5 linked regions of the Homo sapiens genome follow. The protein of the gene in region 1 purifies or fractionates together with the protein of each later gene. This does not show direct contact. Each region holds a gene or a part of one and is shown on either strand. Other genes may lie near its edges.

Region 1 (3,517 bases):
GTCCCCAAGACCTTTTCAAGGGGACTGCAAGTTCAAAACTATTTCATAACAACACAAAGACACTATCTGCTCTTTTTTCACTCTTATTCACTTGAAAATGGACAGTGGAGTTTTTTTCCAGAGGTTATTGGATGTGTGATATGCCAACAGATGAACTATAGAAGCAGATAAGAGAATTCAGGCCGGGCACAGTGGCAAACACCTGCAGTCCCAGCTACTTGGGAGGCTGAGGTGGGAGGATCTCTTGAGCCCAGGAGTTCAAAGCCAGCCTGGGCAACAAAGCCCCTCTCTTTAATAAAAAAAAAAGAGAGAGAATTCAGCTATCTTCTATTAAGTCAGACGTTAAAGACATTTGTCAAAATGTAAAATAATGCCACTCTTCTCAGATTTTTTTAAATACTTATTTTTCATAAAAATATGTTATTTAACTAAACCTTTCTGGAGTTTATTATAATCTTAAGTATTTTGAAATTGTCTTAGGTTTCATTTCTAATATGGTGTCAGTAGTAGCTACATCCCACATTTCCAAAAGCTCTTGGGGATGTTCAGTCATTGACAAGCGTGGAAAAGGGTCCCGAGACCAGGAAATTTGAGAACCACTGGCATGTGCTAGCAGAGCCTCAGTGTACAGTGTGGGTTTCTCCGCTGCCTTGCCAACATCGGGAGAATTCTAAACCAGAGCTGACCAGCAGGTTCCCATTGGCAACTTGTGGCATGGTTGGAAGCACCTGGATTGGCTGTCCTTGGTTTGTGTCTTGCCTTCTGCCCTAGAAACATGGGCAAGTTGTCTGACCTTAGCTCTTGCATCTGTAAAATGGGAACGATGATACGCAAGTCTGAGGATTGTGGTGTGAGAGAGAATATACTTCTGGTAATTGACCTACTGGAATGTGGAGATACATGTCAGTTACTTCTAGCTGTGATTCTCCTAATTGGATGCCTGAGTAGAGAGAAAGCACCCTGTGAGTTATACCAGGGTTTTTCCACCTCAGTATTCTTGACATTGGGGCTGGTGGTGGCCATCTTGTGCTTTGGAGGATGTTGGGTAGCCCCTCTAGCCTCTACTCATGTGATGCCATAGCACCCAGTCATCCCACCCATCCACTCCCAGTCATGAGAAGATAAAAGGTCTCCAGACACTGTCCAGTGTCCCCTTAATGTCAGAATTGCCCCCACTTGAGAACCATTGGGTTATGGGATTTCATTGACACCCAAGAGACTTTGTGTTCCATAGTTATCTAACCTACTGAGGTCGTAGGAGCCTGTACACATTTAAAGCCACAGTCTGAGTGGGGAGGGAGAGAGGCGGTGAATCCCAGAAGCCAGGGTGGGGGGTCACCCTGGTTTGTGCCATCTAATCTATTGGGGATTTATTTTGGTGTATAATGTGAGTTAGAGATCCAGCTCAATTTTTTTGCCCAAGATTAATGCAAGGTTTCTTGCCCTCAGCTCAGTTGACATTTGGACTTGGGTCACTTGCTGGTAGGGCACTGTTCTGAGCCTCCTAGGATGTTGGTCAGCATCCCTGGTCTCCATCCACTAGATGTCTGTAACAGTTTCCTCCACACCCCCACAAACATGACAGTCACAATGTCTCCAGATTTTGACCAGTGTCTCCAGGGAGATGAAGTTACTCCTGGGTGAGAACCACTGGTCATAGGATCAAAGGAACCTACCCAGGAATAAATTAATTGCCAGCTAGAGTTTAAGGCCCTTCCTCCCAACCTTATTTTTCTATTCTGGCCTTTTGGCAGCTGAGTAGGCCTCAATGGACATCATATCCCTCTTCAGGAAGAACAGTCTTTTCCTTGACCTTTAACACTGCCTCTGGTCCAGGGTGAGGACCTGACAGAATGTAAGGGCTGGGAAGAACCTTCAGGGATGCCTGAGTCCTGGCTGCACCATTTCACAGGGGCTGAAGCCCGAGGCCATGGAAGCAGGTAGGGCTGGCTAGGGCCAGTGCGCCTGTCTCCAGCCATGGAGTCTAGGAGTTCATGCTTGTCCTTCCCGGTGAGTCAGTAAACTCTAGGTAATGGGCACTCGTTCACCCCTGAAAACTGACCCGCGTAGGGCACTGCATTTCGCTGTCGCTGTTTATGGTGTTCAAAGAAAGGGAGGAAATTCTAGAGACAGTAGTAGTTACTCCATACACATGTTTAGAAGGCAGGCCTTGCCTTTTGCAGTAAGTTTAAAATGCCTTTGCTAAATTAAACTCCCCCAGGTTTGCCACAGAGAATTTTGGGAACTTATTTACCCAGAATTAATTCCTGCGTTGCATCTGTGAGAGCAGAGCGTGAGTGGAAACGGTCCTTGAGAACTTGCCTTTCTCTGGGGGAGAGGGTGAGAAAACAGGCAGTTACCCTCTGCTCAGAGGAGAGAGGATGTTTTGCAGCATTGATGGTGATGGCCACTGGGTCCTAAGAGTCCAGAGCCTGGGCCCCAACCTTTACACTGGATAAATCCAGATTTGTCAGCATGGCCTGCAAGGCTGAACGTCCTGTGGGCTCCACCCAGCCCTTCCCGTTCTCCTCCCCTCCAAACATGGGCCTCCAGGCTCTTCCTTTCCTTAGAACCTTTGACTTGGGGTCCCCTCTGCCTGGGATCCCCTGCCTTCACCTGGCTCATCCCTGCTCACCCTTCATGTGTGAGCTTCAGCGAGGCCTTACCCATTCACTCACTCTCTCCCACCATCCTGTGGTATTTTCTCTGCAGCACCCAGCTCCAGAACTACCCAGTTATCTCTGCACACAGCAGGTACTTGTTTGTTTTCTCTTTCCCAGTAGAGAGCTGCGGCCTTGTCTGCCATTTCTTTCCTGTCTCCAGTGGCAAGCTCGGTGCCTAGCACAAGTCTGTGCTTGGTAGATCCTGCTGGTGAGAGCAAGGCTTGGCTGCTCGGCTCGGCCTGCCTTCAGATCCCACCTGTTTCCTGTGACCTCAGAAGGGCTCAGGCATTCCGAGCACCTGAGCGTTTGCCTTGAGTGTCCCAGGCGTCCAGGCAGCTCTTGGATCCAACCATTCCACCCCCTAAAAGGGGTCAGACTCTGACGCATTTGTCGTTGCCGGGCACTGGCAGCTGTCCTTGAATCCAAGGCCTATGCTTTAAGGTGGCATCAATATGTTTGCAATCTTCCGAGCATAATAATGCTACCAGTGCCAGTGTGGAATCATCCTGTGTGCCAACCACTTCCCCAAACACGGCATGTGCAGCATTTCATTTCATCCTTGCCGAAGCTGCCTGGGGTGAAATAACAGCCCTGATATGCAAATGAAGACATTGTGCCAGAGGTACATTGTCTTATCTGGGATCCCAACCGCAAGTAAGTGGCCAGGGCAGGTTTGAACACACACAAAGACCAGAGCCCGCGCTCTCCAGTATCATCAGTTTTGCTCTGCTGCCTCAGCATAAATTCTGTAGTTCTTGGATTTCCTTCCTGTAAGCTTCCGTGTAGAGAGGAGGGGATTCCTGTTGTCTCTACTGGAACTTTCCCGAGTCTTCAGCCACTTGCATGTTGCCTCA
Region 2 (3,517 bases), on another chromosome or scaffold:
GAATTTGCATTTCTAATACGGTCGCAGGTGAGGCTAAGACTGCTGGTAGGGAAACCACACTTTGAGAACCACTACTCTTCATCAACAAGTTCTATTTCTACTTCTAGTCACACTAGCCATATTTTAAGTGCTCAAAAGTCCCATGTGATTAGTGGCAACCCACATTGGAGAGTGAAGATTTATGTCATTTCAGAAAGCTCAACTGGAGGATACTGATTAGAACACAGATATGTCCATAAAACATAGAGCATAGATTATAGCTTTAATTTTATGTAATCCTTTTGCAAAACTCACTAATACTTTCAATTTTTCAAGGAGCACACTGAATTATTAAAAAAAACTTACAGCTAAGGTAAAACAAATATTCTGATTATTACCAAAAATACTGTTTGCAAAGGATATTCTTAGTAATGTTTAGCAATGGAAACTGGTTAAAATAAATTTTATGTGTGTAATCAATACTTTTTCTTATTTTAAGTACTGCTGAGTCTATAACGGACACTGGCTCCTATATAAGATACAGAACTACTTGTAGTAACATTTTTTGAAACACATAAGTGAATAAGAATCAAGAATGGCCAGGTGTGGTGGCTGTAATCCCAGCACGTTGGGAAGCCAAGGCTGGAGAATCGCTTGAGCCTAGGAGTTTGAGACCAGCCTGGGCAACATGGTGAAACCCCATTCCTACAAAAAATTAGGTGGGCATGGTGGCACGCTCCTGTAGTTCCAGCTACTTGGGAGGCTGTGGTGGGAGAATCACTTAAGCCTGGGAGGTTGAGGTTGCAGTGAGCTATGACTGAGCCACTGCACTCCAGCCAGGGCAACAGAATGAGGTCCTGTCTCCAAAAAAAAAAAAAAAAAATCAAGTATTAAAATAATATTATTTGGGTGAGGAACCGTATTAGAATTTGTTTTACCTTTCGATACTCCCTCAGAGCAATAGCAGGATGGACACCTCCAGCAAAGGTCTCATTATCAGTGAATACAATGAAGACATCAGCAGGTGTGTTTGTCTTCTGAGCCCAGATCATTGGAAGAGAGCAATCAGTTCCACCTGCTGGGATCTAATTCGGAACAAAAGCATGAATAAATAAGTAAATAAATCCTTAAAAATACTAGTTTTTACAGTATCATTTTGTTTAGCACCAATATATACAGCCTTCCCAAAGCCTGCATATATATTTTCGGTTTTGTACTTGTCATGCAAAAATTAAGACAAAAAAAATTTTGTTCTCACAGATTAATACCATACATGACATCAATATAAAATCATTCTACACGTTATGTAAACTTAACTAAGTAAACTTAAAAAACACAGTTTCTTACCTGACTCATAGCCATTAAAACCTGTTGTAAGGTCATATCTGTAGTCACTGGACATGGTACCATTTCATCGGAAAAAGCAACTACATAAGAATCTTTTTCTGTTCGTGTGACAACCTGAAAAATTCAATGGCAGTAATTTTCAGCAAATTTGGGGGGAAATACAATATTTTGAATTTTATCCAACTTCATGTTTAAAAGAAACACTGATGTTTATTTCTTAACTTTTTATTAGTGTGTTTTAGAACTATACATTAACAGTAGTACAGCTTTCAAAGTACTTTCACAAAAAAACTGGCTATCATGACTATCCTTTGAAGCAAATACAGTAAATATTCTTCTCATTTCATTAGATAAGAAATAAAGCCCCAGTAAAGAAGCTAAAAAGTTTGCCTACTATTCATCTGTTTGTTATTCACTGACAGGATAGAACTAAAGTCTCTAGACACTCCTATTAGTTCCCAGATCTTTTAAGCTTCAAATCGTTAAATAATTTAAGCATTATTTTTAAAATAAATTTTTAAAAAATTTGTCTTTTTTTCATTTTATCTAAGCATTATCTACTTCCTAAAAAATCCATTAATATTTAATCTTTTGTTGTAAAAATTAAAATTTCTACTCTGCTTGTTCTTTAGACATACTTTTTCAACACACTTAACACTCTGGCTTTACACAATTATCTTTAAATATAAAATTAAAAATGTGACAAGCTGAAATGACAGAAAAAAGTGAAAACATAATTCTTAATCATTATTAATCTTATAGTTTTGCTCTACAGTAAACATGTTTTTAGAATGGCAAAATTGTCTTAGGTGTTCTCACCATGCACATTGCTGCAGCAACTGTACTAGCGTTGAGTATACTACCCAAAACTCTTTGGTTCATAGAAGCACTGACATCAACAGCTAGTAAGAAACGTTTTCCAGTTGGTTCAACTGTCTACAGAGAAAACAAAACAATCATTAAAAGCATAACAGAAATTATAAGTAGACTAAATTTCTAAATCATATTTACTTATCTTACATTAAAAAGACTGATAAAAGGCCTTCAGATTTTTGATATACCAATTGACAACTATTTAAAAATGCTCATCTGGCATAGCAGCTATGACTGAAAATTAAAAAAAAATAATAAAAATACTTAGCTTTTACAGGTAAAACAAAGGAAATAACCTATTCAATAATTTTAGTTAAATAAGTTACCATCCTATTTTTAAAATCTTTCCTCATTGAAGTAAAATGAGAATTTTTAGTAGGAAATTTTTATTGTGGTAAAATATAACATAAATTTGACCTTTTTAACCATTTTTAGATGTACAATTTGGTGGCATTAAGTACATTCGCAATGTTGTGTAACTATCACCTCTATCTATTTCAAGAACTTTTTCATCATCCCAAATAGAACTTGTACCAATTAGGTAGTAACTCCCCATTGCCATGTCTCTCCCTAGCCCCTGGCAACTTCTATTCCACTTTCTGTCTCTATAAATTTTCCTGCTGTAGATATCTCATATAATGGAATCATACAATACTTGTCCTTGTTTGTCTGGCTTATTTTACTTAGTATAATCTTTTCGAGATTTATCCATGGTGTAGCATGTATCAAATTTAATTCTTTTCTAAGGCTGAATAATATTCCATTATATATACCACATTTTGCTTATCCATCTGCTGATGAACATTTGGGTTGTTCATCAAAATCAGTTGTATTTCTATATACTAGCAATGAACAATTCAAAAAAGAAAACTAAGAAAACATTTGTTCACAATAGCATCAAAAATAAAAGACAAGAATACATTTAACTCTTGGCTATTGTGAATAATGCTACTGTGACTACTGGTATACAGATATCTGTTTGAATACCTGTTTACAATTCTTTTGGGTATATACCTAGAAATGGAATTGCTGGATGGTATGGTAATTCTACGTTTAACCTTTTGAGAACTGCCAAATTGTTTTCCACAGGGGCTACACCATTTTACCATTTTACATTCCCACCAGAAATACACTAGGGTTCCAATTTCTCCACATCTTCCCCAACTCTTGTTTTCTGCTTTTTTGATATTAGCTATCCAACTAGATGTGAAGTAGTTATTACACTGTCATCTTGATTTGCATTTCTCTGATTATTAATGATGTTGAGTATTTTTCATGTTTTTTTTTTGTTTTTTGAGACAGAGTTTCACTCTTGTTG
Region 3 (3,517 bases), on another chromosome or scaffold:
ATACAGTTCATAAACAATATATTTAGTCTAATTTATCAAGGACAGGAATAAATATCTCTGTTATCAGGAAAAAGCAACAAGTTGTTTCCACTGTGTGGAAGAACTTGTTATTTCTCTGGCTCTTACCATCTTCATGTGCTTTTCTCTTGAAGCTCAAAGTTCCTTGGCTTTTGTTGTGACCTTCAAATAATTCTTAAATAAAAACACAGGAAAAGAATCATTATGTGACATCATTTGAAACACATTAATGGTTTTCAAGCATTCAGGTATACTAAAATAAGAAAACTTAAGCAGATGGACAAATAAAGAATGAGTTAAGAATTAGGAATATTTTGGTACAAGGTTTAGAAAAAAGTTGAAACTCTTGGCTTAAATTAGGTACCTATTTTTAATGATTTTTAAGGGTCATTTGAGCATACAATAGTGTAAGGATTTCATTTTTAAAGAGTTTTTCTCTTGCTAAATGAAAATGCAAAGAGGAATGTCTAGAATTTTTTTTGTTAATGTCAATTCCAAAGTTACCATGTCTCCATTTGGCAGTTCTGAGAGTTGGTTTTCTTAGGATGCAGTCAACTTCTTCATAAAATCTCATTTTTCTTGGAGGGTTGCCATTTTTTCTTTGTAAAATGCTATATTCATATTTTACATTTTTATATTTCGTATGACATTGTTTCCGGTCTCTGTCTATCCCAAACTGCATTAATTAATCTTCTGGCAATTTCCTCAAATATTTTCTTGTTTCTTGTGGCCCCTTCAAGCATTCGCTTAATTTTTTCATCAGACCATATCAATGCTCTGACCTCACTGTCACACCAGTATTTTCCGGCCTCTGTGTTACTCACTGTTATAATCTGTAAATGACTTTTAGCATCTTCTAAAGGATTACCTACAAATCAACATGATTTATAATTATTCAAACATAGATAAATCTTGTATTTGATTATCATTCACTTAAAGCAACTGTGATGGCATAAAGTACCAAGAATACAATAATAACTTCAATATGAGTCAAAAGAAATTTTGTGTCCATATTCAAACAGTATATTCTAAAAATTATAAGACAGACTGTTCTCATTATTAGTGAGAAAATTTAGCTGCTTTTCATCATAGGTGATCTTCACTGGATATTTGTGAATATGGAAAGTCCCAGTGTTTACTAAATTTCTTTTAGTGAGAAGTGGGCATAGACATTTTCCTTCTTTCTCTACTGTATTCTCTACCAACTCAGGTATAAGGAAGCATTTTAGGTAATACACAATAGAGATCTTCTCTGTTAGACTTCATATATCAAAATGACATTTAAAATTTACCAATTTAGACCCTGCAGTGGACCCAGTATTATTTTGGGGTGATGATGTGCAGCAGGGGGTGACAGGGGGAAGGCATACTCCACAATGCTTTCTAACAGTGAGTTCCTCTCATCTTAAATTCTCCTAGGTTTTAATTCTGAATAATTTTTCAGCCTTATGAATTTTTTTTTTTTTTTTTTAAGAGACAGGGTCTCACTATGTTGCCGAGGCTGGCGTGGACCTCCTGAGCTCAAGCGATCCTCCTGCCTCAGCCTCCCAAGTAGCTGGCACTACAGGTGCCTACCACCATGCCTAGTGCCTCATGGAAATTTGAAAATGTGTTTAAATCACTCTTGTTGGATATAATTTTTAAAAGATGGTGATAGAAATGTAAAATGGTGAAGTCATGGTGGAAAACAGGTAGTTCCTCAGAAACTTTCAGCATATGCCATATGACCAAGCAATTCCACTCCTACATATAAACCCAGAAGAACTGAAAACATGTTCACATAAAAACATATACATGCTGTGGAAAAACAGTACTGCAGGTCCTAAAAAAATTAAACACAAATTACCATATGATCAACAATTTCGCTTCTGGGTATATACCCAAAAGAATTGAAAGCAGGGACTCAAGCAGATATTTATACATCCACATTCATAGCAGAGTTATTGATAATAGCCGAAAGGCAGAAACAACCCAGATAACCATCGATGGATGAATAAACAAAATGGTGTATCCATACAATGGAATATTAAAATGAAGGAAATTCTGATAAATGCTACAACATGGAGGAGCCCTAAAGATATTATAAGTGAAATAAGCCAGGCACAAATGGACGAATATTGTATGATTCCACTTATATGAGGTACCTAGAATAGTCAAATTCACAAAGATGGAAAGGAGAATAGTGGTCACCACAGGCTAAGGAGAGTTGGGATGGAGGAGTTATTGTTTAATGGCTACAGAAGTTTCAGTTTGGAATGATGAAAAAGCTCTGGAGATGGAGAGTGGTGATGTTTGCACAACAACGTGAACGTACTTATGGGTATAATGGTAAATATTTTATGTATATTTTACCAAAATGGGAAAAAAATTGTACCAGAATGTTCATAGCAACAGTATTCATAGGAGCCAGAAAATGGCAGTGACCCAAATGTCTGTCAGTTGATAAGTGGGAAAACAAAATATGGTATATCTGTAAATTGGAATATTATTCAGCCATAAAAAGGAATGAAATACTGATATATGCTACAACGTGGATGAACCGTGAAACAAAAGAAGCCAGACACAAAAATGTATATTGGAGGGTACCACTCATGTCCAGAATAGGCAAATTCTTAGAAACAGAAAGTTGGTTAGTGGTTGTCAGGGGTTACAGAGGTGTGGTCAAGCAGTTAAACTACTGATGGATATGGGGTTTCTTTCTTTTTTTTTTTTGAGACAGAGTCTTGCTCAGTCGCCCAGGCTGGAGTGCAGTGGTGTGACCACGGCTCACTGCAACCTCCGCCTCCTGGGTTCAAGTGATTCTCCTGCCTCAGCCTCCCGAGTAGCTGAGACCACAGGTGCGCGGCCACCACGCCCAGCTAATTTTTGTATTTTTAGTAGAGATGGGGTTTCACCATGTTGGCCAGGATGGTCTTGATCTCTTGACCTCGTGTTCTGCCTGCCTTGGCCTCCCACAGTGTTGGGATTACAGGCGTTAGCCACCGTGCCTGGCAGATACGGGATTTCTTTGTGGGGTGATCAAAATGTTCTAAAATGGGATACTGGTGATTATTGTATAACTGTGGATATACTAAAAACCACAGTTATACGCTTTAGTTGGGTGAATTTGATTGTATGTAAATCACATCTCAGAAAAGTTGCTGAGGTTTGAGAATAGAAAAGTAAAGACAAGTCAAGTGTAGAGGTTAATGCAGTGATGTCTGTGGGAAGTTATAAAGGAACTAAGGAAACATGAACTGCATTGTACGGAGCTTCCAAATCTTCCTCTAAGCCAGAGTTTTTATGATGTGATTGATTAAGTCATTGGCTGCAAGATGGAACTCAACCTCCAGCCCCACTCTCCTTCATGGAGGTCACACTGGCACAAAGCTCCAACCCTCATCACATGGTCGGTCTTTTTCGGTGACTACCCCCTATCCTGAAGCTATCTGGGAACCCACCTAGAGTAGCCTCATTAACACAACAAAGATGCCTCTGTCTCTGGAAGTTCCAAAGGTTG
Region 4 (4,224 bases), on another chromosome or scaffold:
TCCCATTCTTGCCTTTTCCGACAGTGTGAATCTTCATTCTCTGATTTGGGGAGACCCCGGCTCTTTCTTCATTTATTCATTCTCAGGCAGTGGGGAGAAGAAGTAGTCATTCATTCATTCAGCAGATCTTTACTGGGGCCTGCTCCTGCCCAGGCACTGTTTTAAGTGCTGGGAATGCATAGTGAACAAAGCCCCCAGTTCCCTGCCGCTCACATTCCAGTGAGGTGAAAAGACCCAGAGGGTCCCTCCTCAGTCCAGGAGTTCTGGTGCGCTCCCCGGAGCTTCCCTGGCCCCCCTGACTGCTATCCTTGTCCCCAGGCGTGTTCACAGCGCCACTGGCTGGACGCTACTTGCTGAGCGCGGTGCTGACTGGGCACCGGCACGAGAAAGTGGAGGCCGTGCTGTCCCGCTCCAACCAGGGCGTGGCCCGCGTAGACTCCGGTGGCTACGAGCCTGAGGGCCTGGAGAATAAGCCGGTGGCCGAGAGCCAGCCCAGCCCGGGCACCCTGGGCGTCTTCAGCCTCATCCTGCCGCTGCAGGCCGGGGACACGGTCTGCGTCGACCTGGTCATGGGGCAGCTGGCGCACTCGGAGGAGCCGCTCACCATCTTCAGCGGGGCCCTGCTCTATGGGGACCCAGAGCTTGAACACGCGTAGACTGGGGTCCCGCCCGACGTGTCTACGTCGGCTGAAGAGACAGCGGGGGCGGCGGGCTCCTGGGGTCTCGCCTGAGACGGGGCACCTAGCCCTGGGCGAGCGCCGCACCCGGGCCCGCAGCGGCACCGCGCCCAGAGCGGCCTCTCCCCACGCCCGGGGCGCGCCGGCTCAGGGAGGCTCGGGGCCGCCCATGCAGACTTTTGGCCTGGCGCGATCCCCCAAGAACCCCTCCAGGGCCGGCCTGCGGAGGAGCCGATCCTCGCACCCTCCGCTCCCTCCACTGGCCCTCCAGGTCGATTCCCTGGGCTCCAGGCTCCCCCGCGCGGGCGCCGCCCACCGCCATACTAAACGATCGAGGAATAAAGACACTTGGTTTTTCTAAAAAAAACTAAACGAACCGTTCTGCTACGGTACGGGGTCGGGGGCTGCCGGGCGTGCACAGGGCACGGGGCGGGAGAGACGACGGCCTCCGGAGAGGACCCCGGGTTCCGCACTGCGTTCGCCGCCTCCGCCCGGCTCGGGGCGGCTCGGGGTTGGCTCAGGCAGCAAGCGGCGCCCGCCCGGCTCCTGCGACGTCTCCCCCGTGTCACGCCCGTTTCGCCGGCGTCCGCCAGGGGGCGCTCTGCGTTCCCGCCACGTGAGGCTGCGGCCCACCCGGCGGGTCCTGCTCCTCCGCGGCGGAGGCGTGGCCTCGGCTGGGACTAACCGGGGCGGGGCGGGGCGGGGCGGGGCGGGGCCGCCGCGACCGCGGGCTTCAGGCAGGGCTGCAGATGCGAGGCCCAGCTGTACCTCGCGTGTCCCGGGTCGGGAGTCGGAGACGCAGGTGCAGGAGAGTGCGGGGCAAGTAGCGCATTTTCTCTTTGCATTCTCGAGATCGCTTAGCCGCGCTTTAAAAAGGTTTGCATCAGCTGTGAGTCCATCTGACAAGCGAGGAAACTAAGGCTGAGAAGTGGGAGGCGTTGCCATCTGCAGGCCCAGGCAACCTGCTACGGGAAGACCGGGGACCAAGACCTCTGGGTTGGCTTTCCTAGACCCGCTCGGGTCTTCGGGTGTCGCGAGGAAGGGCCCTGCTCCTTTCGTTCCCTGCACCCCTGGCCGCTGCAGGTGGCTCCCTGGAGGAGGAGCTCCCACGCGGAGGAGGAGCCAGGGCAGCTGGGAGCGGGGACACCATCCTCCTGGATAAGAGGCAGAGGCCGGGAGGAACCCCGTCAGCCGGGCGGGCAGGAAGCTCTGGGAGTAGCCTCATGGAAGAGAAGCAGATCCTGTGCGTGGGGCTAGTGGTGCTGGACGTCATCAGCCTGGTGGACAAGTACCCTAAGGAGGACTCGGAGATAAGGTAGGGGCGCCCAGGTCCCCTAGGGGACCCCAGGGGCTGCTGCAGTCCAGCATTTGTGCCAGCGACCGAGGCTGCAGAGACCCCGCAGTGAGGCCCTGAGAACCCGGCTTCAAGGCCGGACCCGCGCCCTCTACCCGGGAATCCTGGGGGGGCTCCCAGCATGACAGAAGAGAGGAAGGAATTGAGGCCTTTAATAAGAAGACCCAGGATTTAATAGCATCGTGTTAGCCAATTTCCATTTCAACTCAGGCATCAGGTGTCAGGTGTCAGGCATCAGGATCCCCATTTTACTGATAAGTATAGATTCAGAGACCAAGGGGCTTATCCAGGGGCACACAGCTACCTGCTTCTGCTGTTTCTTTTTAAACCCCAAGCCTATGCACTTGCCTCTCATCAACATTTACTTCTAACTTATTTATCCACATATCTCGCACCTATTTCTGAGAAAGATTTGAGGTAGCTTACAGTAAAAAGTATGTACAGTTAAACTGTTGGAGAACATTTAAGACCATGGTATTTGAGCTTCAACTATAGCTCAGGGCTTGCTGGCACTGGAGGCAAACATGAGATGCCATGGGTTATGTATGGATAGAGCTGGTTCATGAGCCCTGGCAAGCTTTTTCCTGGTGCTAAATTCCAAGAGGAGTTTACCAGAAGTCCTTTTCACAGAGGTCAATGAACACCGTTTAGTAGTGGGAAATATCTTTCTCAGTTGTCTGCTAGAAACTGAAGAGTCAGTTGTTGGTTCTTTTTTTTTTTTTTTTTTTTTTTTTTTGAGACAGGGTCTCATTCTGTCGTCCAGGCTGGAGTGCAGTGGTGCAACCATGCTCACTGCAGCCTTGACCTCCAGACTCAAGTGATCCTCCCACCTCAGCCTCCTGAGTAGCTGGGACCACACATGCACGTCACCATCCCAGCTGTATTTTAAATTTTGTATAAGGGACGGGTTCTCACTATACTGATCAGAGTGGTCTTGAGCTCCTGGGCTCAAGCAGTCCTCCTGCTTTGGCCTCTCAAAGTACTGGGATTACAGGCATGAGCCACTGCACCCAGCCGATTTGTTGGTTCTTTTTCTTTTTGAGACAGAGTCTCGCTCTGTTGCCCAGGCTGGAATGCAGTGGCATGATCTTGGCTCACTGCAACCTCCGCCTCCTGGATTCAAGCGATTCTCCTGCCTCAACCTCCTGGGTAGCTGGGATTATAGGCATACGCCACCATGCCCCACTAATTTTTTTTTTCTTTTGTAGAGACAGGGCTTTTCTTTGTAAAGACATGTTGGCCATGCTGGTCTCAAACTTCTAATCTCAAGTGATCTGCCCGTCTCAGTCCCCCAAAGTGCTGGGATTACAGGCATGAGCCACCACACCCGGCTTATTGGTTCTTGTATTTCCTCTTGATAAGGGCCCCACCATTACACTGTAATGCTGTGAAGGCATTTCTGTGGGGCGGGACACTAGCTTTCTCTTGGTGCAGTCAGTGAGTGCTTAGAACACTGAGAATTGCTCCTGGGCTATATCAGTTGTCGCAGCTAAGAACTGGATAAGAGGCAGTTCAAGACTGAACTCCACAAAGACACGACAGTGCTGATGGCTGCCAGGCTAACTGAGGTGAGAGACCCCGACACTCCTCAGGCTTTGGGGCCACAAAGCACCATCACATATATTATTTTATACTCTCCTCCCAGCAGCCCATGGGAACTGTGTAAAGATCAGTGAAATCCTTTATACAGATAAGGAAGCTGAAGATTTGGAGATGTTTTTTAAGGCCACGGAGTTAAATGGTGGCACAGTGGCAGCTGCAGCTCGAGTCTCCTAGTGTGGAGTCCAGGGTCCCTGCCCTCTGTCATCTCCTGTATACCCTGTCCCTTTGCTGTTGACCATCTCTTGGAGTTGACCCTTTGCTTTGGTTTGCCAGAGGTTAGGGCCCCTTGCCAGGGGTGCAGGGACTGGGGAAGGGGCACGGGCATGCCACTGTGTAGACCTAACCCACTGTGCAAGGTCGAGGCAGCCACAGGACATGGCACTCAGTGAGGAGTTGGGTTCATCTCAGGGCAACAGTGCAAATTCCAGGGCCACAGGTTCTCCAAGGACCGTGGAGAGCCTGGGAAAAGACTCAGCGCCTCTTTCTGTCAGAGCTGAAGTCCCATTTCCTCTCAGCTTAATTCTGTCGGGAAGGTAGGAGAAGGAGGTCCTGCTAGCACCCACACTGATGGGGCAGGTTCTGAAGGTGGGC
Region 5 (3,517 bases), on another chromosome or scaffold:
CCAGCTTGTACCCGGGACGCAGAGGTTGCAGTGAGCTGAGATCGAGCCACCGCACTCCAGCCTGGCGACAGAGCAAGACTCCATCTCAAAAAAAAAAAGGAAGCGGGGAACAAGCCTTGTTCCTTTATGTGCTGTCCTGACTGTTGTGTATTATTTTTGTTAAGATTGCTATAGTTCTTTTTTTTTTGAGATGGAGTCTTGCTCTGTCGCCAGTGCTGGGATTGCAGGTGTTAGCCTGGCATTGAGCAACGTTTTGTAATTTAAGCATACAAGTCTCTCACCTCCTTGTTTACATTTATTCCCAGGCATTTTTTTCATTTAGATGCGATTGTAAATGGAATTGCTTTCTTAATTTCCTTTTCTGATTGTTCGTTGCTGGTACAGTAGTCCCTTCTTATCCACAGTATTGCCTTACGTGGTTTTACTTACCTGCGTCACCCGTGGTCCAAAAATATTGAATGGAAGATTATATAAATAAACATTTCATGAGTTTTAAATTGCAAACAGTTCTGAATAACATGATAAAAATCTCACAGCCTCCTGCTCCGTCCTACCCAGGACACGAATCATCCCTTTGTCCAATATATTCATGCTGTATGTGCTCCCCACCCGCTAGTTACATACTAGCCATCTCAGTTATCAGATCAGTTGTTGGAGTATTGCAGTGCTTGTGTTCAAGTAACCCTTATTTTATTTAAAATGGCACCAAAGAGCAAGAATAGCGATGCTGGCAGTTCACATATGCCAGAGAGAAGCCATATAGTGCTTCCTTTAAGTGAAGAGGTGAGTTTTTGACTTAGGAAAGAAAAAAGATCGTATACTGGGGTTGCTAAGATCTACGGTAAGAACAAATCTTTTGTCCATGAAATTGTGAAGAAGGAAAAAGAAATTTGTGCTAGTTTTGTTGTGACACCCCAAACTGCAAAAGTTACAGCCACAGTGTGTGATAAGTGCTTTGTTGAGATGGACAAGACATTAAATTTGTGGGTGGAGGACACAAACAGGAAACATGTTTCGATTGATGGCAACCTGGTTTGATACTGTTCATCGTTTTGGACATTCACTGGGGTCTTGGAATTTCAAAAATAAGATGTTTGAGTGGCTGTATACTCTTTATCACATGGATGGAACATACTCTGGTTGTATCAGCTTTTTTTTTTTTTTTTTTTTTTTTTTTTGAGATGGAATCATTCTGTTGCCCAGGCTGGAGTGCAGTGGTGCGGTCTTGGCCCACTGCTGCCTCCCGGGTTCAGGCGATTCTTTGCCTCAGCCTCCCAAGCAGCGGGGATTACAGGCGTGTGCCACCATGCCCAGCTAATTTTTGTATTTTTAGTAGAAAGGAGGTTTCTGCATGTTGGCCAGGCTGGTCTCGAACTCTTGGCTTCAAGTGATCCACCCGCCTCAGTCTCCGAAAGTGCTGGGATTACAGGTGTGAGCCACCGCACCCAGCCTGGTGTGCATCAGCATTTTGGACTTTGGAGTTTACGTAACCAAGGAGCCAGGCTGTGGACCTTGTTTATTACTTGAAGAATTCAATATTTATTTCTGCCTTTTTGACTCCTTGACTGTAAAATACTGATCTGATCTGTAGAGAGAACAGTACATGTACTATTAAGGCACAGGGAATCCTCAGTGCCTTAATAGATCGTAAGTACTTACTTATTCTTTCCCATAGAGGCTTACACATGGTAGGAGAAGAGATTTCTGGAATACCTTTCCTCCCCAAAGAAAGCTGGTTTCTTTTGTTTGTTAAGTGAGAGAGTGGTACCACAGGGTTTCCAAGATTTCCAAGGCTGATGAAAATTCTTAACTTCTGTTGTCTGCTTGTCTTGCTTTCTTGAATTTATTTTTTGTATGTTATGTATTTATTATTTAGAGACAGGATCTCCCTGTGTCACCCAGGCTGGAGTGCAGTGTCACAGTCATAACTCACGGCAGTGTCAACCTCCTGGGCTCAAGTGATTCTCCTTCCTTGGCCTCCTGAGTAGCTAGGAACACAGGCATGCTCCACTATGCCTGGCTATTTTTTTCCCCCTGGAGACAGGATCTTGTTGTGTTGCACAGGCTGGTTTCAAACTCTTGGCCTCAAAGCTAGCCTCCCACCTTGGTCTCTGAAAGTGCTAGAATTAAATAGAATTAAAGGTGTGACCAACTGCACCCAGCTTATTTATGATGACGATGATGATGATGTTTGGGAGATGGAGTCTCTGTCGCCCAGGCTGGAGTGCGATGGCACGATCTCAGCTGACTGCAACCTCTGGCTCACTGCAACCTCCACCTCCTGGGTTCAACTGATTCTCGTGCCTTAGCCTCCCGAGTAGCTGGGATTACAGGCACCCGCCATCATGCCTGGCTAATTTTTCTATTTTTGTAGAGACGGAGTTTCACCATGTTATAACGCCAGGCTGGTCTCAAACTCCTGACCTCAGGTGATCCGCCCACTTCGGCCTCCCAAAGTGCTGGGATTACAGGCATGAGCCGCTGCACCCAGCTCTATTTTTTGTTTTGTGATAGGAAATTATAAAACATGGAATTATGCATTTGTCAGGCTTTAAAAAAAACTTTTAAGTGAATGAAAATGGCATATTTGAACATAAACTTAGGGCAGATTTTTACTACTTTTGAAAAAATGTTGGAGAATATTTCTGTATGAAACGTAAAACAACTTTTAATTTTTTTTAGAAGTTGAGAGGATTCTATTTTGCAAAGCTGTATTATGAAGCTAAAGAATATGATCTTGCTAAAAAGTAAGTACAAACTGTAACATGTATTCTTTTTTTAAAATCAATGCCTTTTCTCATTTTCTTCTTTGAAATAGGTAAAAATATGTTCTTAGTAGTTCTTCCTAAGTGTATTCTGGAATAAGGGATTTATCACTCAGACTGATGCTAAGGACCAGCCTAGATTCCATTGAGATTGAAACCGTAATTAGTGTTTTCTGCATGCTGCTGCTTTATACCAAGGGCAAGAAATTGTTTGGCTTAAAACACTTTTTCTAAAAATTGTCTTCTGTTGGAGTAAAAGAGGACCATGCCTATATCTTCATTTGTTTTTGGTTAGATATCTGATACCTTAATCAGATGGAAAATAGCAATGAATAAAAAACTGTAATTGTAAGGCAGGAGAATAGCTTGTATAAAAGATCTTTAATTGACACAATATGTGATGCTCTAAGGCTCTATCCTAGGGATAAGAAGCTTGGTGATTCTGATTTCCTGACTGGGAGTGGATTAAAGCAGGAAATTAAGAGGGAGGCAGGGTTTTTTTTTTTTTTTTTTTTTTTTTAGGCAGTATCTGTCTCTCTTGCTCAGGCTGGAGTGCAGCAGCTGGCTCCATCTTTGCTCACTGTAACCTCTGCCTTCTGGGCTCAAGAGATCTTCCCACCTCAGCGCCCCAAGTAGCTGGGGATACAGATGAGCACCACCACACCTGGCTAAGGTTTGCATTTTTTGGTAGAGACAGGTGTCACTATGTTGCCCAGGCTAGTCTTGAACTTCTGAGCACAGCAGTCTGCCTG

The links.
Region 2: the proteins of RANBP3 (region 1) and RO60 fractionate together in Homo sapiens (co-fractionation; one large-scale study listed by BioGRID). This does not show direct contact.
Region 3: the proteins of RANBP3 (region 1) and PPAT fractionate together in Homo sapiens (co-fractionation; one large-scale study listed by BioGRID). This does not show direct contact.
Region 4: the proteins of RANBP3 (region 1) and KHK purify together in Homo sapiens (affinity purification with mass spectrometry, with the first as the bait; one large-scale study listed by BioGRID). This does not show direct contact.
Region 5: the proteins of RANBP3 (region 1) and RGPD1 fractionate together in Homo sapiens (co-fractionation; one large-scale study listed by BioGRID). This does not show direct contact.

Annotation. Positions count from the first base shown.
Region 1 is NC_000019.10:5,968,127-5,971,643, reverse strand, and holds part of RANBP3 (ran-binding protein 3), read left to right. Parts: intron 1-3,517. UniProt on the Homo sapiens protein: Acts as a cofactor for XPO1/CRM1-mediated nuclear export, perhaps as export complex scaffolding protein. Bound to XPO1/CRM1, stabilizes the XPO1/CRM1-cargo interaction. In the absence of Ran-bound GTP prevents binding of XPO1/CRM1 to the nuclear pore complex.
Region 2 is NC_000001.11:193,080,109-193,083,625, reverse strand, and holds part of RO60 (RNA-binding protein RO60), read right to left. Parts: intron 2,263-3,517; coding exon 2,146-2,262; intron 1,441-2,145; coding exon 1,327-1,440; intron 1,065-1,326; coding exon 918-1,064; intron 1-917. UniProt on the Homo sapiens protein: RNA-binding protein that binds to misfolded non-coding RNAs, pre-5S rRNA, and several small cytoplasmic RNA molecules known as Y RNAs.
Region 3 is NC_000004.12:56,425,615-56,429,131, reverse strand, and holds part of PPAT (amidophosphoribosyltransferase), read left to right. Parts: intron 1-126; coding exon of another isoform or gene 127-192; intron 193-3,517. Other genes in the region: PAICS (bifunctional phosphoribosylaminoimidazole carboxylase/phosphoribosylaminoimidazole succinocarboxamide synthetase), read right to left, coding at 127-192. UniProt on the Homo sapiens protein: Catalyzes the formation of phosphoribosylamine from phosphoribosylpyrophosphate (PRPP) and glutamine.
Region 4 is NC_000002.12:27,085,360-27,089,583, forward strand, and holds the start of KHK (ketohexokinase), read left to right. Parts: upstream 1-1,412; 5' UTR 1,413-1,900; coding exon 1,901-1,992; intron 1,993-4,224. Other genes in the region: EMILIN1 (EMILIN-1 precursor), read left to right, coding at 319-656. UniProt on the Homo sapiens protein: Catalyzes the phosphorylation of the ketose sugar fructose to fructose-1-phosphate.
Region 5 is NC_000002.12:86,948,614-86,952,130, forward strand, and holds part of RGPD1 (RANBP2-like and GRIP domain-containing protein 1), read left to right. Parts: intron 1-2,682; coding exon 2,683-2,747; intron 2,748-3,517.